7 linked regions of the Homo sapiens genome follow. The protein of the gene in region 7 interacts with the protein of the main gene of each other region in a pairwise test. Each region holds a gene or a part of one and is shown on either strand. Other genes may lie near its edges.

Evidence for each region.
Region 1: the proteins of KLHL20 (region 7) and NUP160 interact in a two-hybrid assay, tested with the Homo sapiens proteins (one large-scale study listed by BioGRID).
Region 2: the proteins of KLHL20 (region 7) and PRKAG1 interact in a two-hybrid assay, tested with the Homo sapiens proteins (one large-scale study listed by BioGRID).
Region 3: the proteins of KLHL20 (region 7) and SLC13A5 interact in a two-hybrid assay, tested with the Homo sapiens proteins (one large-scale study listed by BioGRID).
Region 4: the proteins of KLHL20 (region 7) and HR interact in a two-hybrid assay, tested with the Homo sapiens proteins (one large-scale study listed by BioGRID).
Region 5: the proteins of KLHL20 (region 7) and CIMIP1 interact in a two-hybrid assay, tested with the Homo sapiens proteins (one large-scale study listed by BioGRID).
Region 6: the proteins of KLHL20 (region 7) and EPAS1 interact in a two-hybrid assay, tested with the Homo sapiens proteins (one study listed by BioGRID).

The regions. Positions count from the first base shown.
Region 1 is NC_000011.10:47,782,131-47,786,543, reverse strand, and holds part of NUP160 (nuclear pore complex protein Nup160), read left to right. Parts: coding exon 1-91; intron 92-1,480; coding exon 1,481-1,622; intron 1,623-3,345; coding exon 3,346-3,471; intron 3,472-4,413. UniProt on the Homo sapiens protein: Functions as a component of the nuclear pore complex (NPC). Involved in poly(A)+ RNA transport.
Region 2 is NC_000012.12:49,005,029-49,009,441, forward strand, and holds part of PRKAG1 (5'-AMP-activated protein kinase subunit gamma-1), read right to left. Parts: intron 4,362-4,413; exon of another isoform or gene 4,281-4,361; intron 3,572-4,280; exon of another isoform or gene 3,398-3,571; intron 825-3,397; coding exon 715-824; intron 565-714; exon of another isoform or gene 516-564; coding exon 434-515; intron 364-433; coding exon of another isoform or gene 337-363; coding exon 278-336; intron 138-277; coding exon 92-137; intron 1-91. UniProt on the Homo sapiens protein: AMP/ATP-binding subunit of AMP-activated protein kinase (AMPK), an energy sensor protein kinase that plays a key role in regulating cellular energy metabolism.
Region 3 is NC_000017.11:6,703,360-6,707,772, reverse strand, and holds part of SLC13A5 (Na(+)/citrate cotransporter), read left to right. Parts: intron 1-616; coding exon 617-745; intron 746-994; coding exon 995-1,131; intron 1,132-3,716; coding exon 3,717-3,895; intron 3,896-4,413. UniProt on the Homo sapiens protein: High-affinity sodium/citrate cotransporter that mediates the entry of citrate into cells, which is a critical participant of biochemical pathways.
Region 4 is NC_000008.11:22,121,011-22,125,423, forward strand, and holds part of HR (lysine-specific demethylase hairless), read right to left. Parts: coding exon 4,301-4,413; intron 2,804-4,300; coding exon 2,639-2,803; intron 1,870-2,638; coding exon 1,780-1,869; intron 1,599-1,779; coding exon 1,483-1,598; intron 685-1,482; coding exon 603-684; intron 219-602; coding exon 55-218; intron 1-54. UniProt on the Homo sapiens protein: Histone demethylase that specifically demethylates both mono- and dimethylated 'Lys-9' of histone H3. May act as a transcription regulator controlling hair biology (via targeting of collagens), neural activity, and cell cycle.
Region 5 is NC_000020.11:58,157,026-58,161,438, reverse strand, and holds the end of CIMIP1 (ciliary microtubule inner protein 1), read right to left. Parts: intron 2,049-4,413; exon of another isoform or gene 2,008-2,048; intron 779-2,007; coding exon 617-778; 3' UTR 289-616; downstream 1-288.
Region 6 is NC_000002.12:46,359,567-46,363,979, reverse strand, and holds part of EPAS1 (endothelial PAS domain-containing protein 1), read right to left. Parts: intron 3,343-4,413; coding exon 3,224-3,342; intron 3,096-3,223; coding exon 2,890-3,095; intron 1-2,889.
Region 7 is NC_000001.11:173,735,258-173,739,670, reverse strand, and holds part of KLHL20 (kelch-like protein 20), read right to left. Parts: intron 1-4,413. UniProt on the Homo sapiens protein: Substrate-specific adapter of a BCR (BTB-CUL3-RBX1) E3 ubiquitin-protein ligase complex involved in interferon response and anterograde Golgi to endosome transport.

The sequences.
Region 1 (4,413 bases), on a different chromosome or scaffold from region 7:
TGCAATTTGGAGGAGAGGCAGCACAAGCAGAAGCCTGGGCCTGGCTAGCAGCCAATCAGCTCTCATCTGTCATCACTACTAAGGAGTCTAGGTACAACCCTGGTGTTCAACCCTGGGTAGTTTTGCCTTTCTAAAAGCTGTAACTGTCTTTCTCTGACTAAATTGTCCTACATAGATCATTTCACTTTTTTCTTTCTTTTTGGCTAAGTTTTTATAGGGGCTGGAAAGTTTATAATTAAGGTGACATCATGTCATTTATTGTCCAAACTAGGATGTCTTTGCCTATGAAATGTCTCCTTCTCCATATCCCCCTCCTCAAAGACTTACTGTTTCATATCAGGAAAGGGTACTCTTACAGGCAAAAATCTGTATTTACTTGTTTCGGAGTGTTATCCTCCTTTTTTCCCCCATTTCTTCCACTGAGCAGTCACTGCATGGTTTCATCACAGTGTCCTCTTATATCTTGTCTCCAGCTGCTGTTCAGCAGTCTGTCACCCATCAGCCCCCATCATCCACTATACCTTCTTCAGATCTCCTCTGGTTCGTATACTTCCCCAGTGCACCCACTTTGTGTCCACGTAAATATACTTCAGCTTCTTCAGAAACCTTCTCTAACATTCCTAACCCTCAGTAAACTTCCCTTTCTGAACTGCATTTGCACTTGGTATTATACAGCTTAGCACTTTAGAGTGATAGCACTTTAGAATTTGGAAGTTCTCTGACATTAGTTTTCAACCCCTAAATTAGCACATCAGAATAACTTATTAAAATACAGATTATGAGAAATCACCCTAGTCTTCTAAGTTAGAACTTCTGCATGATTCTAATGCTTGATCAGGTTTGAGAACCAGTGTTCTGAACCAGTTTCTTGTTTTAGAAATGCAGAAACAAAGGAGTTAAATGAATTATGCATTAATAGCCAAACAAATAACGTTCATTTACTAAATATGTTTGTTTACTAAATACTAAATACGTTAGTGGGAGAGGAATATACGAACCCAAGACATCTAGTTTCTAGTGCTATCCCCATAAGTCACATTAGCCCAAATAATATTTGTTCCCATTTAGCTATATTATTGATTCAGTTGTTAATTTCTAAAGTTTTCCTTGTAAGGCTGGGCATGGTGACTCCTGCCTGTAATCCCAACACTTAGGGAGGACAAGGTCAGAGGATCACTTTAGCTCTGGAGTTTAATACCAGCGTGGACAACATAGCAAGTCCTTGTCTCTACAAAACATAAACAAAATTAGCTGGGCATAGTGGTGCATGCCTGTATTCCCAGCTATTTAGGAAGCTGAAATGGGAGAATCTGGGGCTGAGGCTGCAGTGAGCTGAGATCACACCACTCCACTCTAGCCTGGGTGACAGAGCAAGACCCTGTCTGAAAAAAAAGTTTTCCTTGTAAATACATGCTTTGAATGGTACTCTAAATAGCTATTAAGAATCTGAAACTCATTAGTCATTTTTGTTTTTTTCAAGTGCTACAGATGAAGCATGGCGACTATTATCCACTTACCTGGAGAGGTACAAAGTCCAGAATAACTTGTATCACCACTGTGTAATCAACAAGCTCTTGTCTCATGGAGTGCCTCTGCCTAATTGGCTTATAAACAGTTACAAGGTAAACGGATTATAACTTGTACAGAGTAAGAACCCACTCTTTATCATTCTGGATAACTTCATGAGATGATTAAAAATATGGACTGATTGCAGTGGCTCATACCTGTCATGCCCGCACATTGGTAGGCCAACAGGGGAGGATGGCTTGAGCCCAGGAGTTTGAGACCAGCTTGGGCAACACAGGGAGACCCCATCTCTATTTAAATTTAAAAATATATAAAGAAAAAGAAAAAGATGGGGTGATAACTTATGGGAACATATTGACTTACGTACTTTGGGAAGCTTTTCATCATAGCTAAAACCATAAGAACAATTCAAATTCATTTCCACAGTACTACTGTGTATTTAGATTTGAAGTTTCATAGGTTAGTAATTAGGTTAATGACTCCTATTATATTCACTGAACAATGAGTTTATATTTAGAACAATGAGCATATGCATGACACAGGATTTACTCTTCATACCTCAAAAAAGTCACAGGAGTCGGTGGAGTACTTTTCAAATAATATAACACTATGGCTGGTCTGAGTGCCGTGTTGTTTACAACTAATTGAGCACAACCAGTTTCCGATTGGTTCCTTCTCCACTCCCACTGTTTCACCTATTAAAAATCAAAAACGGGTTCTTAGACTGTCTGCATCAGAATTATTCAGATGGCAGTCTTCTTCAAAATACAGATTCCTCATCCTAGACTTACAGAATCAGATTATCTCAGGCTAGGAGCCAGAAATCTACATTTTAAGAAGCTCCTAATTTGATTTTGATGCATGCTAAAGTTTGAGAACTTCTGCATCTGAACCACCGTTAGTAGGATAAGGAAAGAGAAAATCTAAAGCTTAAAATCAGGAAAGTTTTTTTTGGTTTTTTTTGTTTTGTTTTGTTTTGTTTTTTTTGTTTTTGTTTTTGTTTTTTTTTTAAGGTAGAAAGGAGGCCGGGCACGGTGACTCACGCCTGTAAACCCAGCGCTTTGGGAGGCCAAGGCAGGCAGATCACCTGAGGTCAGGAATTCGAGACCAGCCTGGCCAACATGGTGAAACCCCATCTCCACTAAAAATACAAAAATTATCTGGATGTGATGGTGCGTGCCTGTAATCTCAGCTACTCTGGAGGCAGAGGTTACAGTGATCTGAGGTTGCACCACTGCCCCCAAGCCTGGGCGACAGAGCAAGACTCTGTCTCAAAAAAAATAAATAAATAGGAAAGTAGGGAAGCCAGCTAAGATGGTAAAGGTAAGATTGTGATCAAATGGGAATATAGAAAGCATGCTTAATTAATAGAGCTCTTCCAAATAGAGACTTCAGATTTAAAGCTGGTGATTCTTTGAACTTCTTTTGCATTTGTCATTCATATATTTCTTATTATGTGAATATATTGTCACTTTAGTGTTCAGGAAAAGTTTGTTGACTTTACAACTGTGGAAACTGAAGTGGAGAGAAGTTAAAATATGTCTTAGGTCATAAAACAGGGGAAGAAGGCTATTTAACAGATAAGGGCCTCCCAAACTGCCTAGAGGTAACGGCTCTTAGGGATTTAACTTTTTTTTTTTCCTAACTCCCCAGATTTGTTATCAGCTCTTATCCTAAGATACAGATGAGTAAACCAAGCCACTGGTTTAATTATATTGAGAAATACAAATGTTAGGGAATCAGCCACTCAACATTCTTTGGTCAGTACTCAAGTAGGAGGGAAATAGGTACATATTCTTAATCACTGACTTTTCACAGAAGGTTGATGCTGCTGAATTGCTTCGTTTATACTTAAACTATGACCTTTTAGAAGAAGCTGTGGATTTGGTGTCAGAATATGTGGATGCTGTATTGGGAAAAGGACATCAATACTTCGGAATTGAGGTAGGCATATACAAATGGTCCCCAATTTACAATGGTTTGACTTACGATTTTTCAACTTTACAGTGGTTTGAAAGTGATGAACATTTATGAGAAACCATACTTTAAAATACTGATGGCCGGGCACAGTGACTCATGCCTATAATCCCAGCACTTTGGGAGGCCGAGGCAGACAGATCACCTGAGGTCAGGAGTTCGAAACCAGTTTGGCCAACATGGCAAAGCCCCGTCTCTACTAAAAATACAGAAATTAGCCAGATGCAGTGGCACGTACCTGTAATCCCAGCTACTCAGGAGGCTGAGGCAGGAGAATCGCTTGAACCTGGGAGGCAGAGGTTGCAGTGAGCCGAGATCATGCCACTGCACTCCAGCCTGGGCAACAGAGCGAGACTCCATCTCAAAAATAAATAAATAAATAAATAATAAATAAATAAAATACTCATACAACCGTTCAGTTTTTCAGTTGCAGTACAGTATTCAATAAATTACACAAGATATTCAACAGTGTATTATAAAGTAGGCTTTCTGTTAGATGATTTTGCCCAACTTTATAGGTTAACGTTAAGTGTCCTGAGCATGGTTAAGTAGGCTAGGCTAAGCCGTGATGTTCATTAGGTTAGATGTATTATATGTATTTTCAACCTATGATATTTTCAACTGATAGTGGGTTTATTGGAAAACAAACCCACCATAAGTTGAGGAACATCGGTATAGGCGCATATATATATATATATATATATATATATATATATATATATATATATATATATATTTTTTTTTTTTTTTAACTGAGTTTTGCTCTGTTGCCCAAGCTGGAGTGCAGTGATGCAGCCTCCACTTACTCCCTCACTGCAGCCTCCGCCTCCCGGGTTCAAGTGATTCTCCTGCCTCAGCCTCCTGAGTAGCTGGGATTACAGGCACCTGCCACCACATCCAGCTAATTTT
Region 2 (4,413 bases), on a different chromosome or scaffold from region 7:
AAGGGATGGGTCACAAAATACCACCATGGAAAAGTGTTTCCCAGAAACCCGCCATCCCTTTATCCTTTTATAACCCCAATTCTCTACATACCTCTCCAAGTTTCTATCTTGTGTTCTTCTAGCTCATAGATCTGTACCTGAAAGCAGAAGCAACAGAATTTGAGACCTGATCTCTCTGCTTCCTTAAGCCCTCGTGGCTTGCTTGGAGAAAAAGAAATGAGAATGAGGGATTTAGGGCAGGGAAAGTGATTTTGGTCATTGGGTTAAGGTTCCTTACCAAGGCTGATTTATAGTAGCGGTGCAGGATATTGATGAAATCAGTGATGGTCAGCATGCCTAGAGGACAAGACAGAGCCCTCAGCACTGCCTGAAGCTTGTCTCCCTGCCCAGCACAAGATGCCAATAATATTGTGTTCCAGAAACTTTTGCTTACCCACAAAACTTTGCTTCTTACTATCCCATAAAGGGGCAGCTCGTACACCGTTAGTCACCAAAGCAAAAAAAGCTTTCTTCACCTGTAGCCAAGACAGTAATAATCATAAAGGCAAATCCACAGGGGCAGGACTGTAAAAAAAGAACAGTGTTTGGGCATGTTGGGTAAAACATGAGACTAACTTCACAGAAGGATAAGGATATTACCCTTAGGATGAGATAGGATGAGAGGTATTAAACCACAGGCTCCAAAGGGGGAAGGGAAAAGAGGATTTCACCCACCTGCAGGGACGTATCAAATACAACCAATTTGGAGCTTGTGGGAATCAGGTCATAGCAGCGATGAGACTTCATGAAGGAAGTATACACGCTATTGTTGGATTCTGGGGTCTCTGCATAGGGTGGGATAGTTAGTAGCTTCCTTCCACATAAAAACTCCCAATCAAAAGAGACAGAAAACAAAATAGTGTTCTAGTATCTCAAATATTTAGAGCATTATTTTTTAATAAGACCCCTTATTTTATCTGTCTTGTTCCTATTGTTTCCACAAAACCTGGATAAACCTCTTAGAAACCATTTCATCCAACCCCTGTCTCCAGGTTAAGACTTTATCTATTGGTCCCTATAGGTAAAAGAAGTTGACTAAAACATAAAGCCTATAGTATCTCTCTTTAACATGTTATAGTCTAAAAATGTTTCTCATCTTTAATCCAAGCTTTCCCTTTCATATACTTAGCACATTTTCACTTTCCTCTTTTTTCAATGAAGTAAGCTTCTTAAAATTCTTCCAAGACTGTGCTGGGGATGGTGGCAAGCACCTGTAATCCCAGCTACTCAGGAAGTTGAGGCAGAGGATCACTTGAACCCAGGAGCTCGAGGCCAGCCTGGGCAACACAGCGAACCCCTGTCTCAATTAAAAAAAAAATTATTCTAAGACCTGCAAATGGGAAAGTCATGGTCCAAGTTGGGCCATTTCTCATTAACAATAAGTTGGAGCCCAGTGCTCAATCAACCTGGCTCAAAACACCCTGATAGTCCATTCTGGGATCACCCTGTAAATCAGAAATCATCCCACCTACTCTAGACAAATGGGAGATCCTGGCTAGTTTACCTTTTTCTATTCCTGTGATTTTAATTGCTTGCTCTAAACTAGGGAAGTAATCTCCCAAAATAATAGCTTGAATGTGCTACATACTATACTACGTGCACTTAAAAATATTACATTGAGGCTGGGCGTGGTGGCTCATGCCTGTAATCCCAGAACTTTGGGAGGCCAAGGTGGGAGGATCACCTGAGGTCGGGAGTTCAAGACCAGCCTGACCAACATGGATAAACCCTGTCTCTATTAAAAATACAAAATTAGCCGGGCATGGTGGCGCATGCCTGTAATCCCAGCTACTCGGGAGGCTGAGGCAGGAGAATTGCTTGAACCCGGGAGGCAGAGGTTGCGATGAGCCGAGATCGCAACATTGCACTCCAGCCTGGGCAACAAGAGTGAAACTCCGTGTCAAAAAAATAAATAAATAAATAAATAAATTACATTGGCTGGGCGTGGTGGCTCACACCTGTAACCCAGGACTTTGGGAGGCCAAGGTGGGTGGATCACCTGAGGTCAGAAGTTTGAGACCAGCCTGGCCAACATGGCGAAACCCCGTCTCTACTAAAAAAATATAAAAATTAGCCAGGCGTGGTGGCACGTGCCTGTAGTCCCAGCTACTCAGGGGGCTGAGGCAGGAGAATTGCTTGAACCCAGGAGGTGGAGGTTGCAGTGAGACGAGATTGTGCCTCTGCACTCCAGCCTGGGCGACAGAGTGAGACTCCGTCTCAAAAAAAAAAAAAAAAAATTACATAATTTAATCCTTACAACAAATGTGTAAGTAATGTCCTCATGTTTCAGATGAGAAAATAGGTGTAGTTAAATAAACTGCTCAAGGTCACACCATTAATAAGTGGCAAGAAAGACTCAAACAAACCCAGATCTGTTTCCAAACTTCATGCTCTTAAGTCTTTAATCAATTTGGTTTTTAATATTTATTTTTTTAACCAAAGTTATATAGACACACAGTTAAATCAGTCCAACAGTTTTACAAATTTTGTTAAGAAAAAATTGCACTCCTTGCAACCCACCTCCCTGTACTACCCTTCCCCAGAGATGAGAACATCTATCTACCTTAGTTGATTATTTTGGTACTTAATTCTATGTCCTTAAATAACATGCTTGTATTGCTAGTTTCCATTTTTTTTTTCATTTTGGGGCATTATTTATCATCTATCTACCAAAGAAGATGAGAATTTCTAGTTCTCTCTCCTACTAGGACTCCACCACAAACACGTACTTCCCATTCTCCTCATTATTCCAGGAGCTAAACCATAATGTTGGTTATATCCGTATTTCAATCTTTTTTTTTTTTTTTTTTGAGAGGGAGTCTTGCTCTGTCACCCAGGCTGAAGTGCAGTGGCACGATCTCAGGTTACTACAACCTCAGCCTTCCAGGTTCAAGCGATTCTCCTGCCTCAGCCTCGCAAGTAGCTGGGGTTACAGGTGCCCGCCACCATGCCCGGCTAAATTTTGTATTTTAGTAGAGACAGGGTTTCACCACATTGGCCAGGCTGATCTCGAACTCCTGACCTCATGTGATCTGCCCGCTTTGGCCTCCCAAAGTGCTGAGATTACAGGAATGAGCCACTGCACCCGGCCAGTATTTAAATCATTTTGACTGAATATTTATTATTCAGAGATAAGCCAAATAGTAAACTCTGATTTTTTTTTCTTCCTTCACAACTTTGTTTTACCTGGAGTTAATGTCTTGTCCTTTTGTTTAATTTTCTATGTATAATTCTTATAACTAATCCAACCCCCAAATGCTTCACCAACTATTTAAATCTCCTTTTAAGAGGTTCAAAAGCATTAGACAGTCTATCAAAATTTAAACTACCCAAAGAAATCTCCCTGGAGCCTTCTGACCTGCTCAAATCTGGGCTGGTTTGTCTGGTGTGCACTGCTGTCATCCTGGGATCTTTCTTCATCACCATCCTGGGTACCCCTTTCACGTCTGTCCTCTACTGGTGCTCCTATATCGCGTTTTTATCTTTTTTGATTACTCCCTTATTTTGGTGGAACACATCTTCCAGTAGCTTCCTGAGAAAGGGTGCATGGGAGGTATGTGTTTTTGAGACCTTGCAGCCTGTAGATATCTTTATTCTACCCTCATCCTTGGATTTATAATTCGGCTGAATAGAGAATCTGCAGGAAAGCTTGGAATGTGTTTTCCTGCAGAATGTTGAAGGCATTGCTCCATTGCCTGCTAGCTGCTGGTGTTGTTGAGAGTCCAAGGCAATTCTGACTTTTTGTATGTGACTTTTTTTTCCTCTCTCTGAAAACTCATAGGATCTCTGTTTCCAGTGTTCTGAAATCTCAGGATGACTGTGCTTTGGGTGGGTCACTTTCATCCATTGTGCTGAATATTCGATGGGTCCTTTCAATATGAAAACTAATGTCCTCAAGTTCCAATAAATGTTCTTGAATTAGTTCCTCAATTATTTCCTTCCCTCTGTGTTGCCATTTTTCTTTTTCTATGACTCCTATTTAGATACTGGACCTCCTAGACTGATCCTTTAAATGTTTGTTTGTTTTGTGGGTTGTTGGAATCTTTCCTCTCCTTTTTTTTTTTTTTTTTTAAAGAGACAGGCTTTCATTCTGTTACCCAGGCTGGAGTACAATGGCGAGATCATGGCTCACCTGCAGCCTTGACCTTCTGGGCTCAAGCAATTCTCCTATCTCAGCCTCCTGAGTAGCTGGGACTACAAGTGTATGCCACTATGCCTGGCTAATTTTTATTTTTTTGTAGAGACAGGGTCTTGCTGTGTTGCTGAGCTGGTCTTGAACTCCTGGCCTCCCGCCTCAGTCTCCCAAAGTGCTGGGATTACAGGTATGAGCCACTGCACCTTCTCTCCTATTTTCTACTTTGTTGATTTTTAACT
Region 3 (4,413 bases), on a different chromosome or scaffold from region 7:
GCTATATACCTCTGGATACCCATAGCTTAGCTCCCACTTATAAGGGAGAACATGCACTATTTGGCTTTCCATTGCTGAGTCACTTCTCTTAGAACAATGGCCTCCTAGGCGGCAAGAGCGACACTCCATCTCAAAAATAAAATAATAATAAAACCAAAAAAACCAGGTATTTTATTCTTCTTCTCCTTCTCCTCTTCCTCCTTTCTTTTCTTCCTTCTCCATCCCCCTTCCTCTCTTTCTTCTATCCCCTCCTCCTCCTTCTCCTCCTTCTCCTTCTTTCTCCTTTTCTTCCTTGTCCTATTCTTGATCTTTTCTTTTGAGAGGCAGCTAATCCAAGGTTTGAGAAGATGAAAGAACGTGCCTAGAACCACACAGCTGGGAAGGAGGGAGGCAGGGAGGAGGGGTGGGAATGGGGCAGGAGTCCTTTGCGAATAGATCCCTGGCCTGACCCGGGAAAGCTGTGCTGACCAGGGCTGGGGAACAAGATGACTTTGAGGGGAATCCCTCTGAGATCAGCACTGTGTCTTGACAATCCATGCCAGCCGCCGTCCGGAGTGTTCTGGGGGTGGGGAGAGGGAGGCGGCAACACGCTGAGGCCTCAGGACTGTCTCTTCAGTTTGTCAGGTGTGCCTACGTCATCATCCTCATGGCCATTTACTGGTGCACAGAAGTCATCCCTCTGGCTGTCACCTCTCTCATGCCTGTCTTGCTTTTCCCACTCTTCCAGATTCTGGACTCCAGGCAGGTGAGCAGACCCAAGGGATCCTGGTGACTTTCTGGTTCTCCCCTTCTCTCTTTCTCTAGTCCCCACTGTGAGTCGCACAGGCCTGGGGGTGACCGGAAAACCCTCATTTGTGGATTCTCCCTGGCAGGGAGACACCACTCGAGCCTGCATCCCCACTCCAAGCTGTCCCTGAAGTCAGCATCTGGGGACTGGGTGGCTCTAGTGTGTGGCAAGGGACAGTCCTGATGAGGCCTTCGTGCCACGCTCCAGGTGTGTGTCCAGTACATGAAGGACACCAACATGCTGTTCCTGGGCGGCCTCATCGTGGCCGTGGCTGTGGAGCGCTGGAACCTGCACAAGAGGATCGCCCTGCGCACGCTCCTCTGGGTGGGGGCCAAGCCTGCACGGTAATTACGCCTTCTCTCTCTTGCCACGTGGCTCTGCATGAGCCCCAGGGCTGGAAGGGGGTGGAGGATGGCACAGACCAGGCCATCCACTGGTGAGGGCTGGCCATGGGCTTACCTGGACTTGGCTGGGTGGGGTGCGTTATAGCTTTAGTGGGAGAGACCAGATGCATGCGTGGTGGTGGCACATGGTGAGCAGCAGTAAGTAAGGGTCCTCGAATCCAGAGGAGGTGGGTCAGCAAGAGTCCTTGCAGGCTTGGAAGGCTTTCTGGGGGAGGCAGCTAGCTGCAGGGTTCCACCGGGAACAAATTGGATAGAGGCTGGATCAAGCTGTGTCTGATAGGATAAGGGAAGCAGGCCAGAAGTGGCTCAACTACCCAGCTCATGGGGAAGCAGAAAGGTCCTCTCTCCAAGCTGGAGCATCTATTCCCACTGCAAAGAAGCTTCTTATCTTCCCCGATATCACTCAGTACCCCAGCTTCTCTCTCCATTTCCAGGATCTCTCCTGCCAATCTAGCTAGCCATTTCCAGCTAAGCCATGGAGTCAATATAATCATAATCATAACCATAATCAATCATGATCATAATGGGTATATTGAGTGTCTACAAGGCCCCAGGCATGATACCAGGAGCTTATGAATTGCCTCATTTAATTCTTACCACAACTCTGAGAGCTGAGTATTCTTACTGCCCACATTCTGTGGATGAGGGATTGGAGGCAGAGAGGGATAAAGTGATTTGCTCATGGACACACGGGGATTGGACCCAGCTTCTCTGATAAGGCCTGTGTCCTCTCTAATCAGAAACTCAGGGCATATCTTCCTTTTGAGACAATGTGTCCCCTCAATGATGGCACGTCCTTGGCCCAGCCATCAGGAGTCAGCTGCTGGTCAGTTTACGGTAAATTCCTCCTGAGGCGCCCCTGTGTCAGGGGCTGTGCTAGACCCTGAGCACACACAGACGCTAGCCTGCCCTGCAGGCAACCCATGCCCGGGGCTCCCTTGGTGCCTCAGATTCCCCTGAGCAGGGGACTTTGTGGCTCTCTGATCTGTTACACATCCTGGCATTGATTCCTTCCAGTAATTGCTTTAGCATCAAATCAAAAGCCATCATATTTTCTAGAAATGAGAGACCCCAGGAAAGTGGACCTCAGGGCCCTCAGAATTCTTCTGCTTGGCTCCCTTGAGTGGCCAGCTTGGGTGGGAGGCCACTCCAGTGGGTTTCATTCTGCAGCATGCTGGAGAGCTTCCACTTCCAAACCCAAGTTCACACATGCTTCTGTATCCTTCCTGCCACCTTGCTCCTCTGAGTATGGTCTCCGGTTGTCCAAGGCACTGCCTGTCCTGGGAGTCACCTGTATGTGAGGCACCCTTGGTGCCTTGAGATATCATGTAGAAGCCTTGGTTCTTCTCAGACAACTCCATTCATGCAAACTCTCCCCCTCCTCCTAGCCTGGGTCCCGGGCTTTGTTTTTTTTTGGGTCCATAATGTCTGCCTGTGTGGACAGCAGCTTGGGCCCTGGTGCAGAACAGCTCCTAGGTCCCTTCTTCAGGCTCCTACCCCTGCCCCTGCTCCTACCCCCAGGTGAATTAGGAGCCCTGAGGAGGAGCCTGGCTGCAGCGAGGCCCACAGACTGAGAGTAGCTGAGCTCCTTCTGTCCCTAGCCTTGGACAGCTGGGGCATGTAGAGCCACAGAGCAGAGTCAGGCCCTGCCCTGCTCACAGCCCAAGGAGAGAGCAGACATGGAAACAGGTGCTTTGAACCCAGCACAGCGATGATTAGAGTAGGGGGAAGGATTGAGAAGGGTCAGGCCAGCCCCACCTGGTGCACACACTGAGAGCGTGGTCCCAGAGGAGGGATGTTGTTTGAGCAGGCTCTGAAGGACCATGAGGAGTCTTCCTGATAGACAGCAGAGAAGGGAGCAGGGGTTACAAGCAAAGGGAGTGTTTCTTCTGAATACTGTTTGTGTGATAGCTCCACTGCAGCATGGAGGGGTCAAAGTGTATGTGCGGGGCGGAGGGGAGATGGCAGGGTTGGAGTGGCAGCCGGGAGAATAGTCACACTTTCCCAAGCTCCCTCCCCAGCTCACCCTACCCCTACTCTGCTTAGCCCTTCTGAACTTCTGAGAGGTGCAACAGAGTTTGGGGGTGGGTGGGAATTTCCTAGCCAGAAGTGGGAAGCTGGGGCTGCCTGCACATAGGGGTATTCCAGCACACCCTAGGGCAAGCTCATATTGAGTTGGCACCATCTGGATGCCTGGGCTTCCCCTGCTAGATGGTGGGGCAGGGGTGCTCCTTAGAACCACGACTGGATCTGAGGCCTCTTGGTAACCCCAGAAGCAAGCAGAGTAGACATCAGTCATGGGTGTGGGAGAGGCAGGAGGGAGAGAGGAATGGAGGAAGCAAAGAAGGGAAGGAGGGAGGGAGGGGAGGCTCTAAAACCGTCATCCCTATTCCAATATCTGATCTTGAATTGGCCTCAACACCTGTGCATCCCTGCAGGGGTGGACCCAGTCCCCAGTTGCTTCCCAGGGAGTACGGGGGTGGGGTGGGGATTCTCTGGCTTTCCTCCCTGCCCCTCCTCTGCAGGCTGATGCTGGGCTTCATGGGCGTCACAGCCCTCCTGTCCATGTGGATCAGTAACACGGCAACCACGGCCATGATGGTGCCCATCGTGGAGGCCATATTGCAGCAGATGGAAGCCACAAGCGCAGCCACCGAGGCCGGCCTGGAGCTGGTGGACAAGGGCAAGGCCAAGGAGCTGCCAGGTGAGCCCCTGGCCAGGGCACTGCCAGGCCACAACAGCAGCCTTCCCCTCCCTCTGCTGGCAAATGCTTTGGCCACCTCCTTCTCCCTGTCTGCTTCCCGGAGCCCTCCTTTAAACACGCATAGAGAAAAAAAAATAGAAAATACTGTTGTCCTAAGTTTTAGGAGGGGATTATTGCACACAACTTAGATCCTTTAATAGAGCTTTGAACAAAGTCTCACCCTCAGTTCCCATCAGTTGCAGAAATCAGTGTGTTCACCTGATTATTCATTTGGGCATCTTTCGAGCACTTAGGGATGCCCCTCACTCCTTGCTACTCCTGCTCATCCTCAAGGAGGCCTTTTCTGACCTCCTCGAGCAGCTCAAATCCTTCCACTCTCTGCTCCCATAGGTCTGGGGCTTGGCGTCCCATGCTTGCTTCCCTGCTAGGTGCGAAGCTCAGGGAAGACGAGTCAGCATCTACCTTGCCGTCTGCCGTGTTCCCTTACCATCCCCAGCCCAGTGCAGTAGAGTCAGGGT
Region 4 (4,413 bases), on a different chromosome or scaffold from region 7:
AGGCCCAGCCTCTGGTCCCCTGGCTCCTAGCCCTCCCTCCGTGCCCTCACTCACACTGGGCAGGGCCGGAGTGACGGGGGCGAAGGCCATGTGTATTCGCTCATGGCCCAAGCAGAGTTTGACCGCGGTAGAAGCCAGCAGTTCGCAGAGAGAAGGACAAGGCAGGGGCCCTCGGCCAGCACGGTCCTCTGCTGGGGTCTCAGCGGAATCGGGGGTCTCTGTCAGGGAGGAAGATGGTGGGGGGCTTCGCGTTTGGTCCCTCCTCTTCCCCTCGAGGCCCTCTTGCCCATGCTGCTCTTCCCTCTCTTCCTGGCTGAGCCCACTCTCCCCAGCCAGCATCCCCCACCTCAGCTCTGCTCTGGGTCTCCCCGCTCTACTGCTTTTCCTGCAGGCAGCTCCAGAGTCTCTAAAAAGAGGGGTTCAGAGGGGGGTCTGGCCAAAGAAGGTGTTTGGAGGCATGTCCTGAGGGGAGTAGTGGAGATTATTGGGGGTGGGGGGGAGTTGCTAAAGTCCCCGGAGACTTCCGCGACTGTCCCCTCCTGCCTCAAACTCTGGCCCAGCCTCCCTCTTGCACAGGCCGAGGGGCAAGAGGAGCCGCTCACCCTCTTTGATGCTCTTGGTCCTGTGGGTGTCGCCATTGCAGGAAGGTTGTGGAGTTGGGGGCGTTTTCTGTGTTGATTCCTTCTGTTAAACCCATCCACCACCCCCCCAATCCAACCAGAGATTTTAAAATGGCAGACACAATTCAACAGAACCCACAAGAATGAACAATGGACTCTTGTCAGTCCTAAAATCGTGTTTATAGGAGCAAAATGCCATAGGATATAACATTAGGTGGAAAAAAGTTGCTCATGGACTTCTACCTATGATAGGGTCTATAGTCTACTAAAATAGACAAATGGCTGGAAATAAATATGTCAAAACTAATGGTAGCATTAAGGTCATCGTCATTTTCTTCCTTATACTTGTCTGTATTTTCCAAATTTTCCACAATGGGTATATAACACAGTGTCTGGAACCCAAAATGCATTCAATGAACTATTTATTTTGAATGGATGACTTTTATAATAAGAACATGAACTTCAAAAAACTTTGCAGAATGCACATTGAGCGCCTGCTAGGTGTTAGGTGCCGGGATACTGAGAAGGCGGGCCAACGCTCCACCTGAAGGAACCATGGCCTGGGGACCTGGCCATACCAACAAGCACCTCTAGCATGATGTGGCAAGCGCTGAACAAGAATATGCACAGAGTAGGGTGGATATGCTCCAGGAAGGCAGGGGGTGAGGACCTCCAGGGCATGGAGGTGGGAGGGGCCAGCGCTGGAGATCATGCATGGCTCCTGATCCCCAAGGTGGGAATTAGCCTGATCCCACAGGCTTCTCTCTCTTCATCCCCACCAAGAAAAGGGGGGGCCAAACCCCTGCAAAGGTCAGCCATTTGCAGGCACGATACCCAACCGGTGACATGCCCTGGGTCTTACCTGCTGGCCTGCATCCCCGGGGGCCCATACCCGGGCATCAGCTTGGCAGGGGCAGTGCCCCCGGATATCAAACTTGACCCAGACCTGGTGCATTGCAGTGCTCAGCTCTGCCAAAGCTGGGGGTGGGGGTGGGCAGGAGAGGGAGGTTGGTGGTGAGTGTAGACCAACAGGCAGTCCCGGGCAGCTTGGCCTTGCCAAGCAGAAGGGCATGGCACTGGGGGGAGGGACAATCAGACGGGAAGCTGGTCTCCCTCAGGACCCAACCTCTGCACGCCCCACCCCTCCAAGATGGCTCACCCTGGCTGGAGACAAACTGGGTCAGCATCAGGGAACAGGCAGCGTGCCCGGCCTCCTGCGTGCACTCCTCCGCGGACTGCTCCTGAAAGCCTGTGGGGCAGGAAGGGAAAAGCTGCAGGTCCAGAAATCAAGGTAATCACAGGTTAAGGTCAGAGAAGGTCAGGACATGATACCTAAACCAGGGGACTCAATAGTCCACAAAACTCGTGCTTTCTGGGAAACCTGGGTCACATAGAGACACAGCATTCTTTGCTTGTAGAATGCTACAGACTTTAACGTGCTGAGAGGCTTTGCAGGTCCTTAGGCTAACCATGTGGAAGACAATGTTCTAAAACGTGTCTGACCCTGGAGCTCTTTCTGGTCATCCCTACTGGAACACAGGGAAATTTCAAGCTCTCCCGTGGCCAACTTGAGCCAAGGGAAAGAAAGCTGAGAACTATGAAAAGAACAGGATGAAATCAGAAGACCTGAGTCTAAGTCCTGGCTGCAACACGTTACTAACTGTGTGACCTTGGACGAGTCGCTTATCCTCTGAGTTTTTCTTATCTGGAAAACAAAAGCAGTAATACCCACTTCACAGTGTTACAGCAGGTTTTAAAAGGTGCCAGCTGAACAGAGTGGGAGACACCGAGTGGGCACACTCGCCTTTGTTTAAGGGTGGTCAAGGACGCAGGCATGGTCCTCTGATCTGCAGAGAGGGGAAGTCTGCTCTAAGGGCATTGAGCCATGGTGGCTGAGGCTGGGGCTGTGCAGTGGGTAGGGGGCTTTTTGGGGAGAGGCAGCCAACGAATGACCACAGGCTTGCAGCAGTCCCCCTGAGGGCTCCATCCCGCCCTCCCACCCCCAGCCCCTCTCCTACCTGCTTTCTCCCTGGCCCGCCCAGTGCCTGCCACACGACCACAGGCCACACACAGCCGGTGGCTGCAGCGGGGACATCGCCAGTGGGTGTTGAAGAGTCCATGGTGGCAACGGCTGCAGCAGCGTGGAATGCCTGGGCTGTCCTCTGTCACGGCTGGCCCTTGGCCTGCTGACCACGGAGAGAACAGGGTCAGAGGGTGAAGGCAACAGGCCCCAATGGAAGGCTTCACGTGGGAAGGATCCAAGGAGGGGCAGGAGAAGCAAGGAGCAGCTTCCATGGAGAGGGCCCCCCCAGGGAAGGGAGACAGGCCCCTCGACAGCTACCCCCTGCTTACTCCACAGCCCTGTCGAGAGCCTCCTTGTAGAAACTATCCTCTCCAGCAAAGCCTTCCAGGGACATTGGAGGCCTCAGCTCCACCATTCCTGCCCCACACCCAGCTCTGCCCCCAGGGACTTCCCCACTGGCCCTGAATTATTAATCCACACCACTTCTAGCACATTCTTTCCTCCACCTCCTTCCCTCCAAGCCCTAGGTGCTACCAGAAGTGGTAACCATGCTCAGGTGCCATTTCCTCCAGGAGACTTTGTTGTCGTTGTTTTGAGATAGGGTCTCACTCTGTCATCTAGGCTGGAGTACAGTGGTGTGATTACAGCTCACTGCAGCCTCCATCTCCTGGACTCAAGTGATCCTCCCACCTCGGCCTCCCAAAGTGCTGGGATTACAGGCATGAGCCACCGCGCCCAGCCAGGAGTGGGGTTTTCTAAGAACCAAGTATGAGACTAAGCCATTGTTGGTAGGTGGAAAAGGTGTCGCTGAGTACAATTCAACGAACGCCTTGCCTTTGGGTGCAGGGGCCTCAGAGGTGGTTAGGACTTGCCCCTGCCTCGCAGTGCACACATTCCAGGTAGGGAGATGGACCCATAAATACAGCGATGACTGTGGCACCACGAGGCGGGTGCTGGAGATGGAAAATGCCAGGGAAGGGTGAGGATGGGAATGCGGGAGAGCTTCCCAAGTGGGCCCCAGAGGATGAGTAAGTTTTCATTCACCAGGTAGAAAGGGAGGAGCAGGGCATTCCAGACACAGGGACAGCCAGTGCCAAGGCCCGAGGGGATGACAAGCTCCAGGGAGCCGGGAAGGGAAGGATGGATGGCGTGTGTGCTGGGAACCCAGGCTGGGAGTGGCAGGAGCTGACAGGGAGCCTGCTGAAGATGCACCAAGGGGCCTGGCCTGTCTGGGGCAAGAGGGAGCCCCGGGGGTCTCCACCCAAAGACTGACCAGCAGCCTTTGGTCATGAGGAACTCTCTGTGCTGCGGAAGGGCGACCGAAGGGAGCACCTGCAGCCAGAGGGGACCTTAGCCCAGGTCCTGTCAGCCCTCCAGGCCCGGGAGCTTCGCCTGACCCCCAAGCCCTCAGGAGCTCCCCCACCTCCCAGTGCCTTGCAGATACTTGGCACTCATTCTTGTTTTCCCAACAAGCCCAAAAACTCCCAGAGAACTGGGCTGTACCCAGTTTGACACCTTCCTGATGTCCCCACCCAGGCCAGGGGCTCTTCTGAGGTTGCCTTAGGTCTAGGAGCTGGCAGTGTGGGTGGGGTCAGGGGAGGGACACCTGGGGCTCCCCACACAGAGACCCCACGCAGACCCAGGAGGTCCTGTTCACCTTCCCGCTGGGCCCAAGCCAGGGCCTCCCGCTCCCTCCGCAGCAGGCGGCACAGTCGGTCCCCCAAACCACTGAGCAGGTGCTTGGCGAGGCCTGTGCTGAGCCGGCTGTCA
Region 5 (4,413 bases), on a different chromosome or scaffold from region 7:
TGTGCTGGACTGGGGGTGGCTGGGACAGGTCAGCAGCAGTGGTTTTCTTAGAGGGATTGGGAAACCCATTTTTCTCCTGTGAATCTACGCCCAGTGGCAAATCTTGGGCTCATTTCTGCCTTTAAAGCTGTTAACTTATTGCAAATATCTTGAGCAAGGAGAGCCAAGGGATTCTCTAAGTGTATTCTTCTTCCTGAAAAACAGGCCCAGGGATATCTGGATAGAGAAACACCTGATCAACAAGTTCGTTATAAATAAGGATGATGATAGGTGCAATGAAAAGCTACATTGAAGGACCTAGACAAATATTTTTAAAATTGAATCACTTATTTTTTTTTAAAGCCCTGCATAGAAATTCCCAAGGTATCAAAAACAAATGAGAGAAGCCTTATTCATTACATTAGCCAAGAATGGGTGTGGACGTGAACATTCTGGAAGGGTGACGCTGATGACTTGAGAATGTCTAAGGCACACTTTGTGTTCTTTGCAACATCCCATGAGCAAGTACGCAGGGGACTGTGTCCTCGGGATTCAGGGGAGCTCTTCCTTTCCCTGGCATGGCCCTGGGTGCCTGGTGACCGATATGCAGCACCCCTGGGCAGAACTCCGTCTGGATTCAGTGCACGCCCTGCTTGGGCCAGCACAGCTCTCGTGCAAAAGCACCTTTGCAGCTTCTGATCGCATCGTCGAGCTCTAGGCACTTGTTCAGGCCTGGCACTGCAGATCTCCAGCCGATGAAGCCCTGGGTGGTCTGTGGGACTGGGGGGGATGGAAAGACCTGGAATGGAAATACAGGGGATTTAGTGACCTTCGGCCACAGAGACACGAGGCACCCAGCATCGGCATGTGAGGCAGGGGTGGAAAAGACAGAAAGAAAAGCCAGCCTCCCTGATGTGTACTGAAAACAAGCACATTCCAATCAGCTGGACTCAGAGGCTCTCATCTTTCCGGGAAGTGAGGAACATCAAACATGTTTCTTTATCGTGTAATGCCTAACATATTTAATTCATGACTTCCAGCAAAATAATTTTTATTTGGTAAGAAAGCAAAAAGAAAAAAAGATGCAGAAATATCAAGTGCTACAGTTTTCACTGCCTTTTATAAAATATATGGCACTGTTGTCAGATGGCATTGCGGCAGGTGCACGTCACCCTGTTTCGATGAGAAGCCTCTACGAAATGCATCTGTATATACACACACACTCCAAACCGTGGAGATCACAGGAATGAAAAGCAACTGAATTTAATTTTAAAAACCAAAAGGAAAATGGGCTTCTATCTGGAATGAAAAAACACAACTTCATTTGTCAACTCCTTGGACAGATTTGACATTTTTGGAAAATGAGGGTAAATGTTTAGGCAGGTTTTCCCCTTCTTTTGAAATAATCTGTTCTGCATAAGGGGATTTGAACAAAGGCAACAGTGCGGGACATTTGTTCTAGCAGAAGAACTGAGATAAAGAGGTTTAATATGCTTGGGGTTATGAGTTCACTTTTACTAATGGAACCTGCCGGTGAGGCGGTGGCAGGAGGGGATGGTCCCGAGTGGGCTGGCTGCTGCTGGTGGACGAAACCCCTTAGCATATGTTCTTGATGAACTCCTAAAATTAGTCTCCTGCAAGGCTACATGTAGGGCGGGTCATCAACAAATGACAGAGGGGCCAAAGCTTCCTTGAACCAGCTACAAGTAAAATTGTTCAGAAGGGAAGCAGCTCTCAAAGCTGTTTGTCCAGCCAGGCCTTTGGGAGCACACAGACTAACTTCCAAGTCTTTATCTAACTTGTAAAAGAAATGCAGTTGAAATCCACTGTGAGACATCATGTTTCACCCAGCAGAGGGGCAAAAAGATGAAAACACCACCACTAACAAGGGCATTATAGGAGCAAGGGCGATATGGCAATTATCTTTTTTTTTTTTTCCTTTTTTTAGACGGAGTCTTGCTCTGTCATCCAGGCTAGGGTGCAATGGCGCAATCTCAGTTCACTGAAACGTCTGCCTCCTGGGTTCAAGTGATTCTCTTGCCTCAGCTCCTGAGTGGCTGGGATTACAGGTAAGTGCCATCATGCCCAGCTAATTTTTGTATTTTTAGTAGAGACAGGGTTTCACCATGTTGGTCAGGCTGGTCTCGAACTCCTGACCTCAGTTGATCCACCTGCCTTGGCTTCCCAAAGTGTTGGGATTATAGGCATGAGCCATCATGCCCAGCCTGGCAATTATCTTTTGAAAGTGCAGATGCAAAAAAAAAAAAAAAAAAAAAGAAGAAAGTGCAGATGCAAACACTCTTTGACCTAACAATCTACTCTGAGGCATTCATTCTAAAATATCCTGATAGCTACACAGGTACACACCCATGATGGTGCAAGGGATGCCTTGCGGAGCTGTTTGTAATAGCAAACAATTGGACATAAGCTGCATATCCACCCACGGAGGCTCATTCACTATGGCCCATCCATGCAATGTGTGGTGTGCCATGCAATGGTTTAGAAGGATGAGACAAACTTCTAAGAGAAAAGAGGTGCACAAAACTATTCAAAGTATGGTACAAGCTGTGTAATAAGAAAATGAGGCCAGAGGCCCATGGATGTCCTTGTCTATGCAAGAGTGCGTGACAAATGGGTGACAGTGGCTCCAGGGGTCCAGAGGGAGGGAGGCATCTCATCAGATGCCCTTTTAGGTATCAAGGTTACCTATTAAAAATAAATATATTTTTAAAGGCTTTGGTCACCAATGAGAGGATAGGAAGGTGGAAGAAAGGTGGAAGAAGGAAACCAGCTACCATTTTTTTTTTTTTGAGACGGAGTCTTACTCTGTCGCCCAGGCTGGAGTGCAGTGGCACGATCTCGGCTCACTGCAAGCTGCACCTCCCGGGTTCACGTCGTTCTCCTGCCTCAGCCTCCTGAGTAGCTGGGACTACAGGCACCCACCGCCATGCCTGGCTAATTTTTTGTAGTTTTAGTAGAGATGGGGTTTCACCGTGTTAGCCAGGATGGTCTCAATCTCCTGACCTCGTGATCCGCCTGTCTCGGCCTCCCAAAGTGCTGGGATCACAGGCTTGAGCCACTGGCCCGGCCACCATTACCATTTCTTGGGCAAGAAAGGAAGTTTGGAGGGAAGCAGAGGCTGGGGACCTTTCTCGCCTGAATCAAGGTTCTTGTCCTTACCCCTGCCACCCCACAGGCTCTGTCTGGTGAGTGTGGCTTTAAGAGCTGGCCCTTGCTCCTAGACAGGAGTCTCTCACAGGAGATAACCATGTTTTGGTATGTTCTGGTGCCTGGATGGTTCCTCCCTGTTTCCCATCCTCCAGGAGGGGCACCTCTCTGGTATCTAGGTGGGGGCGCTTTCTTTGGAAAGAGAATAACTGTGGTTGTGCAGAGCAGGCCCAGGGGCCCTGGTGGCAGAGGGAAAGTCCAGTCTCATGGGCCGGCAAGGGATCTGTGGGGACAGCATGTGGCTGAGGGACATTATAGACACTAAGCAGATCCCATGCCACCGTATTCTTGGGATGGAGGCAGGTGGAGGCAGGGAGTTGGCAGAATTAAAGCCCAGCTCTGGAAAAATGTCCCACCTACATCCCAGTCTCTCTTCCTCTATTCTCCGGCCAGCCCAGTGTTCTAGGCCACAGGAGAGCGAGCTCCCTAAATGTGTGCATTTCATCTGAACAATCACCTTTGTAGGCACTAATATCAAGAAAATTACGGACTCAGAGCAAATTTCTGTGTCTACAAGGTGTTCCTTGCACGATTATTCTCCCAAATCTCATGCCGGATACAACCTCAATGGCCAGGAATAGGGGGATGGTTAAATAAATTATGACAGATCCACACAGTGGAGAAAAACACAGCCATTAATATAATAGCTATTTAGAGTGCTTTTTTAAACTGCATGGAAAGATGTCCAGGGTATGTTGTTAGGTGGAAAAATGAGATTACAAAGCAGCCTGTGTAGTTTGATTTGTAAACATATACCTAAAAAGTATGTGTGTATGTGCACAAGTGTGTATATACGTATACATGAACATACATTTGAGGAATATTTGAGGGTAACATTTAAAAGCAGGGCTCTGGAATCAGACACACTTGCTGTGTGGCCAGAGAAAGGAATTCAGCTTTTTTAAGCTTCAGCTTTCCCATCTGCAAAATGGGTTTGAGGATGATAATATCCGGGGCTGCAGTGGAAGTAAGATGAGACACCCAATGTAAAGCAGTCACCACGGTGAGCGGCTAAGAGATAATAATAGCTTGAGCTGGTGGGGTGGTTACTCTTACAGGTCAAGGGATGTGTAGGAAAACCTCTGGAAGGAGCACCCCCAAAATGTTAATCATGGGTAAGAGCCTATATGTGGGTTTTAATTATATTATATTTTGGTGTATTTCTAAATATTTTTTAGCAGTGACTCTATATTGCTTTATATTTGG
Region 6 (4,413 bases), on a different chromosome or scaffold from region 7:
ATTAAGGACTTAAAATAGTCACTTCATCAACTGTCTAAGCCATGTCTGTGCCCTTGTTAACTAATCTGCTAATCGGTTAAACACAACTTCTGTGTGACACAGCATTCTATGTCTTTAAATGCTTCTACATGCAGCTCTCCAGCACCACTGAATTCAGACTTGGGGCCATGTAATTAGGTTTCTTGAAAGGCAAGATTTTGCTGAAAATGCAGTGTGTCTCGCAGAACTTATAAGCAATATCACCCTCTACATTATGAGTCACAAAGCCCTAAATCACGAGGCTTGATACTTCCTTTAAGCCAGAAGCTACTCTGGCTACCAGCCCTGAGCCAAACTAAGAAGTCAGCACAGCATCTTTCCCCTTTCTATGTACATTTCCTCTCCAGCCACATTTAGACATCCAATTCCTTGTGTTTCTCCCCCTCTTCTTTTGTCCAAAGGTTAGTACCTTCAGAAAATTACCTGAAACTCATTTAAACCAAGATAATGAATAAAGGATAAGGCTGAATTACCCCTTCCAGAGGATTTCTTCTCACTGTAACAAGGATCAAAATCTTAAGCTTAAAAAAAATCTCTTTTCTATTATGTAGGGATGCCAAGTTATTTTCTAGGACAGTAGGGTTTTCCCAGTGCTTATGGAGTTATGTTACGGATGTGCTTCATTCACCAGGGTGAAGCACGTATCTGACTTTCATCATCCCCAGCACTATATATGCTCCCAGGCTATATGGCTACGTCGGCTTGAGCCACTTCACCTCAAAGCCAGTGACACAGGGGCTATGCAGTGGGATTGTCCATGTTATCTCACAAGACTACTGAGGTACACAAAGCTGTGTCTTCTGCCCAGAATGTTCACCTGAATACAAAGACTGCATCTGATAAATAACCTTACCTATAACATGGATTCCTGCAGTGCCTGTCACTAAAAGTGCAATCTTCTTCTTGAACCACCATCATTATCACCACCACCACCACCACCACCACCACCACCACCACCACCACTACCACCACCACCACCACCACCACTAACAATTACAATAAATGGTGACTGTGTCGAAGTTCCAGGACGGAAGGCTTCATGCATGACATTTTCTCCCTATGAGGTTAGAGCATTTCTTTCTACTTATATAACTACCCACTAGCTCCAAAGGCTGTGAATCCTGGCCCTACTGTGGTCAGAACTGAAGGACAGGAATGACTCAAGGATACTTTTACAAAAGTTCTGAAATTGTGCCACAAGTGGTGGCCAACTCTAAGAAGGGGCGACCAACCAACACCAGGCCGGTCTGGAATCAGAGGAGAGAAACCCCATCCTGGAGAGGAGGGTCCCTCCCATGAAGAAACCAGATGCCCTTGGGATGTCCAGCTGATAAGAGAAAAGTGGGTAGGCCTAGGGGAGGCTGAGCAGGAGCTTTTTTTCCTGGGGTTCCATGGTTTCCTGCTAGCTGAGGAAGACAAGGCAGATTCTTGCTGATCTGGGGGTCAGATTCTTCCTCTTCCTGCCCCCCAGCCACTAACTGCCTTCAGAAGTGGTTTCAGCTCCTTGAGTTTAGTGGAAGATTTTGCTTTGGAGGAGGCCAAGGACAGGAAGTAAGATATAAGCAATAACAAGAAGCCTCACATGTGTTGTGGTGTCTGGACTTCTCAAAGTGCTTGCACAGCCATTATCTCATTTTACAGTGACCCCATGAAACAGGTTAGAAAGTGTTATCTCTATTTTGGAGAAGGGGAAACTGAGATCTGAGGGTTTCCTGAGGAGAAACCCTAGAAGATGAGAGAAGAGTGGCAAAGAGTTGGGGGTGGCAAAGAGCTGCCACAGGAACTGTCACCCTGGGACACATGGCGGCTCTAGATGCTGCAGAAAGCTGAGGTCAGGCAGGGAGATCTCTGCCAGGAAGGGCGCATGCGGGGGGTGCTGCTCAGCAAGCCCCAGTGGCGCTTACTCAAGCCAGGCCTACCCTGGGCCCAGTCTTCTGCATTTCCTTCCCTCCCTGGGGCCGGCCATTGCTCCGGGCATCTGTTCTCCCCATCTTCCTCCTCCTACCTCCCATCATCAGGCTCCACAGTCCCAGAGGCAGGGCTGGTGGGGGAGTTAGGAGCTGTAGGGTATCTAAATACTCCCTCCTATGACAACCCCAGTCTCTTCCCCACCTGCTTCAATCTTCTAAATGAGCTAAGAACCCGAGATGGCATGACATGCCTAAGCAGTCTTAGGCACTCTTTCAACAACTCTAATAAAGGTGATAATAAGAGCTAACACTGAACATTTATTACTAAATTTGAACCTAAGCCATCTAGTCCTGAAGCCCATGCTCTTAATCACTACTGTGTCTCCTAAGAGACACTGGGCCTGGCACTGGGGGGTTAGCATCTGGCTCAGCTACCTTCATCTTCTTCAAAATGGCTGGACACTGGCCGGAATGGAGTTGCATGCAGGAAGGAACAAGGCGGAGGGAAAGGCTCAGTCAGTAATGGAAGAGGGTCAGTCTCCAGGGCAGAAGCTGATGCTCCTTACTGGCCTCTGAAGCAGGAGTACAGATGGAAGTCTCTAGACTCTTTCTCCTGGGGCAGAAGACTGCCTTGAGAATTTCCTCAGGAGCCTGATACACGTATGGAGAAATATGTTCACACCACAATGATGAGAAGAGTTGCACACCAGGAAAGCTCTGCAGATGGACCCTGAGGCTCTGTCAATGGGAGACCACCAAATACAGTACCGGGAACCTCTGAGGGGCACTGATGCAATGAAACAGTGGCACAGGTCCACGAACATGCACCCGGCAATACCACGTCTATGTTCAGTTCCACACCTTTAATACAGGCACAACTCCCCACACACACAGGTAAGACCCATCTCTGCCCACAGCATACACACCCATGGCCCCCTACCTGTCATCACAGTAGGTGAACTTCATGTCCATGCTGTGGCGGCTCAGGAAGGTCTTGCTATCCAGGGGGATGTCCATGTGGGATGGGTGCTGGATTGGTTCACACATGATGATGAGGCAGGACAGCAGGGGCTCCTTGTAGCCACACAGACTATTGTGAGGAGGGCAGTTGTTGTAGACTTTCACCTGGCCCGTGCAGTGCAAGACCTGAGACAGGCGTGGAAGGGTCAGACATGGAGCCGAGAGTGCTGGGGGTGGGGGTAGGGCCTTAGGCATCCCCTGCACCGCCGTTACCCTACACCTGGGACTCCAACCCAGGCCTGATGTTGCCCTACCTTCCAGGTGGCTGACTTGAGGTTGACAGTACGGCCTCTGTTGGTGACCGTGCACTTCATCCTCATGAAGAAGTCCCGCTCTGTGGACATGTCTTTGCTTTTTTTCCCAAAACCAGAGCCTGGATGTGGAAGGATGGGAAGAACCAGCTGAAGTCAGTTTTATATGGATATTCATGAGAGGGGCCCAGCTGCAGTTTTTCTTGGCAGCCTATTGTTTATATTTTCCAAATATCTGCTCTCTTAGCACCTGTGGTCTGCCATCAACACTGAGCTCCATCATGGCCTGTGAACTAATGGTTCCCACTCTCAAGCTTATCTCCTCAACTGGAGCATAAACTCCCACAAGGGAGGAGCTGCTCCATCATTTGATTTCCCATTGCATCTGGAACATGGTCAGTGGTGCCTTCAGAGCAGCGACACAACGACTGCCTATCAGCCACTAACTCAGCCACCCTTTCCTGGGGCAGGCCCAGGTCTTCTCGCAGAAATTCCAAGGGACAGTCTGAGTGAGGCCACAGTTACTCCAAGGGTGTAAGCCTTCCTCACAGGTTAGAAATGTCTCTCCGACACTCCCGTCTTTCCTTTATAACCTGTCTCTCAGGAGGAATTTAACCCCTCCTGTACCCCATTTGCAAACTGCAATAGCTGTGTTCAGGATACCATGCCATTAGCTTTGTCCCTGAAGTGACATATGTATCAAGGCTCTAGAGAGAACTCTGGTACGAATCTCCTTACAGTGGACTTGGTGAGCAAGTCCACTTTATGGATTAACTCAACCTGGATCATATCCTCTCTCTCAGCAAAAATTAAATCACCAAGACCAGCAATATAGCTTACTTCCTTATAGTTGCCAAACAGCCTCCCGATTCAGAACCATTTTCCACTTTTTGTAAAACAAAGTAATGAAGAGTGCCAGCTGAATCCCACTTGTCTGTGTCTAAATCCTGCCTACACCACCATCTCTGGTACCTACTTTCAAAGATATAATCCTGCCCCCTACCCAGCATCATAGAACAATCTAGAGCCTTGTTTCGAATAGTCACACTCCTTCCTCCAGGAACAGTCACCAGCCCCTGCACTTAAACTTCCAGAGGATCTTGACTGACATATTCCTGAAGAGTTATGTGTCAAAGGAACTGTGGCACCCTTGAACAAAACTTCAACATCCTTAGGGGACCCCACTCAGTAAC
Region 7 (4,413 bases):
TCAAAAAAAAAAAAAAAAAAAAAAGGGAGATATTACAACCGATACCACAGAAATACAAAAGATAACTCAAGGCTACTATGAACATCCTTATGTGCACAAACTAGAAAACCTGGAGGAGATGGATAAGTTCCTGAAAATATACAACCCTCCTAAATTAAACCAGGAAGAAACAGAAACTCTGAACAGACCAATAACAACAGTGAGATTGAAATGACAATAAAAAAAATTGCTAACAAAAAAAAAGTCCAGGACCAGATGGATTCACAGCTGAAGTCTATCAGACATTTAAAGAAGAATTGGGCCAGGCGTGATGGCTCGTGCCTGTAATCCCAGCACTTTGGGAGGCTGAGGTGGCAGATTGCCTGAGCTCAGGAGTTCAAGACCAGTCTGGGCAAAACGGTGAAGCCCCATCTCCACTAACATACAAAAAATTAGCTGGGCGTGGTGGTGGGTGCCTGTAGTTCCAGATACTCGGGAGGCTAAGGCAGGAGAATCGCTTGAATGTGGGAGGTGGAGGTTGCAGTGAGCTGAGATCGTGCCACTGTACTCCAGCCTGGTCGACAGAGCAAGACTCCATCTCCAAAAAAAAACAAGACTTGGTACCAATCCTATGGACACTATTCCAAAAGACAGAGAAAGAGGGAATCCTCCCTAAATCATTCTATGAAGCCAGTATCACCCTAATACCAAAACCAGGAAAGAACATAACAAAGAAACAAAACTACAGACCAGTATCCCTGATGAACATAGATGCAAAAATCCTCCACAAAATAATAGCTAACTGAATCCAACAGCATATCAAAAAGATAATCCACCATGATCAAGTGGGTTTCATACCAGGGATGAAGGGATAGTTTAACATATGCAAGTCAATAATTGTGATATACCACATAAACAGAATTAAAAATAAAAATCATATGATCATTTCATTAGATACATAAAAAGCATTTGACAAAATCTAGCATCAATTTATGATTGAAATGCTCAGGAAAATCGGCATAGAAGGGACATACCTTAAGGTAATAAAAACCATCTATGACAAACCTGCAGCCAATATTATACTGAACAGGAAAAGTTGAAAGCATTCCCCCTGAGAACTGGAACAAGACAAAGATGCCCACTTTCACCACTTCTATTCAACATAGTACTTTAAGTCCTAGGCAAAGCAATCACACAAGAGAAAGAAATAAAGGGCATCCAGGACCAGGTGCAGTGGCTCATGCCTGTACTCCCAACACTTTGGGACACCGAGGCAGGTGGATTGCCTGAGCTCAGGAGTTTGAGACCAGCCTGGGCAACATGGCAAAACCGTGTCTCTACAGAAAAATACAAAAATTAGCCGGGCATGATGGTGCGCATCTGTAGTCCCAGCTACGTGGGGGGCTGAGGCGGGAGGATCGCTTGTGCCCTGGAGGTCAAAGCTGGGGGACAAAGCAAGACCTCATCTCTTATAACAAACAAACAAATGAAATAAAGAGCATCCAAATTGTTAAAGAGAAAGTCAAACTGTCGCTGTTTGCCGACAATATGATTGTATACCTAGAAAACCCTAAAGACTCATCCAAAAAGCTCCAAGAACTGGTAAATGAATTCAGTAAAGTTTCAGGGTACAAAATTAATGTACACAAACCAGTAGTACTGCTATACACGAAGAGCAACCAAGCTGAGAATCAAATCAAGAACCCAACCCCTTTTATAATAGCTGCAAAAAAAAAAAAAAAGATAAAATACTTAGGAATATATCTCACTACAGAAGTGAAAGGTCTCTACCAAAACACTGCTGAAAGAAATCATAGATGACACAAACAAATGGAAACACATCTCATGCTCATGAATGGGTAGAATCAATATTGTGAAAATGTCTATACAGCCAAGAGAATCTATAAATTCAATGCAATTCCCATAAAAATACCACCATCATTCTTCACAGAACTAGAAAAAACAATCCTAAAATTCATATGGAACCAAAAATGAGCCCACATACCCAAAGGAAGGCTAAGCAAATCTGGAGGCATCACATTACCTAATTTCAAACTATTTTACAAGGCTATAGTCACCAAAACAGCATGATACTGGCATAAAAATAGGTACATAGACCAATGGAAAGAATAGAGAACCCAGAAATAAAGCCAAATAGTTAAAGCCAACTGATCTTTGACAAAGCAAACAAAAACATAATGTGGGGAAAGGACACCCTATTCAGCAAACAGTGCTGGGATAATTGGCAAGCCACATGTAGAAGAATGAAACTGAATCTTCATCTCTCACCTTATACAAAAACCAACTCAAGATGGATCAAAGACTTAAATCTAAGACATGAAACCATAAAAATTCTAGAAGATAACATTGGAGAAACCCTTCTAGACATTGGCTCAGGCAAAGAGTTCATGATCAAGAACCAAAAGCAAATGCAACAAAAACAAAGATAAATAGATGGAACTTAAACTAAAAAGCTTCTGCACAGCAAAAGAAATAATCAGCAGAGTAAATAGACAACCCACGGAGTGGGAGAGAATGTTTGCAAACTACAGATCCAACCACAGACTAATATCCAGAATCTACAAGGAATTCAAACAAATCACCAAGGAAAAAAACAAATAATTCCATCAAAAAGTGGGCTAAAGACCAATAGACAATTCTCAAAAGAAGATATACAAATGGCCAACAAACATATGAAAAAATGCTCAACATCACTAATGATCAGCAAATCAAAACCACAATGTGATACCACTTTACTCCTGCAAGAATGGCCATAATTTAAAAAATAAAAACATAGGCCGGGTGCGGTGGCTCATGCCTGTAATCCCAGCACTTTGGGAGGCCAAGGCGGGCAGATCACCTGAGGTCAGGAGTTTGAGACCAGCCTGGCCAACATGGTGAAACCCCATCTCTACTAAAAATACAAAAATTAGCTTGGTGTGGTGGCAAATCCCTGTAATCCCAGCTACTCGGGAGGCTGAGGTGGGAGAATCGCTTGAACCCGGGAGGCGGAGGTTGCAGTGAGCCGAGATCATGCCACTGCACTCCAGCCTGGGCAACACAGTGAGACTCTGTTTCAAAATTAAAAAAAAAAAAAAGATGTTGGCATGGATGTGGTGAAAAGGGAACACTTTTACATTGCTGGTGGGAATGTGGACTAGTGCAACCACTATGGAAAACAGTATATGGAGATTTCTTAAAGAACCAAAAGTATATCTACCATTTGTTCCAGCAATCCCACTACTGGTTACTGCCCAGAGGAAAAGAAGTCATTATATGAAAAAGACACTTGCATGTGCATGTTTATAGCAGCACAATTCACAACTGCAAAAATACGGAACCAGCCCAAATGCCCATCAATCAACAAGTGGATAAAGAAAATGTGGTATGTATATATACCACAGAATACTACTCAGCCATAAAAAGGAACAATATATTGGCCAGGAACAGTGACTCACGCCTGTAATCCCAGCACTTTGGTAGGCTGAGGCAAGCAGATCACAGATCACTTGAGGTCAGGAATTTGAGACCAGCCTGGCCAACATGGTGAAACCCCATCTCTAATAAAAATACAAAAATTAGCTGGACATGGTGGCATGTACCTATAGTCCCAGCTACTTGGGAGGCTGAGGCAGGAGAATCACTTGAACCCAGGAGGCAGAAGTTGCAGTGAGCTGAGATTGAGCCCCGTTGCACTCCAGCGTGGGCAACAGAGCAAGTGAGACTCCATCTCAAAAAAAAAAAAAAAAAAAAAAGATAGAATGGCATTTGCAGCAATCTGGATGGAGTTGGTTGGAGACCATTATTCTAAGTGATGTAACTCAGGAATGGAAAACCAAAAATGATATGTTCTCACTTATAAGTGGGAGCTAAGCTATGAGGATGCAAAGTCGTAAGAATGACACAATGGACTTTGGGGATTCAGGGGGAAGTGTGGGAGGTGGGTGAGAGATAAAAGACTACACATTGGGTACGGTGTACACTGCTCGGGTGGTGGATGCACCAAAATCTCAGAAATCATCAATGAAGAACTTATTCATATAATCAAACACCACCTGTTCTCCAAAAACTATTAGGGGGAAAAAAACTATGGTCCTGAGCTGACCACTTTACTGCAAAATAAATAAAAATATGATTTTTTAAAAAGTTGTAAAACAGACCATGTTTTGTCTTTGCTTAAAACCCTTTAATGGTTTTCTAGCACTCTTAGGATCAATCTCAAATTCTTTTTTTTTTTTTTTGAGATAGGGTCTGGTCTGGCTCTCTCACCCAGGCTGGAGTGCAGTGGCACGATCTTGGCTCACTGCAACCTCTACCTCCTGGGCTCAAGCCATCCTCCCACCTCAGCCTCCTAAGTAGCTGGGACTAAGGGTGCACGCCACCATGCCCGACTAATTTTTGTATTTTTTGTAGAGACAGGGTTTCGCCATGTTG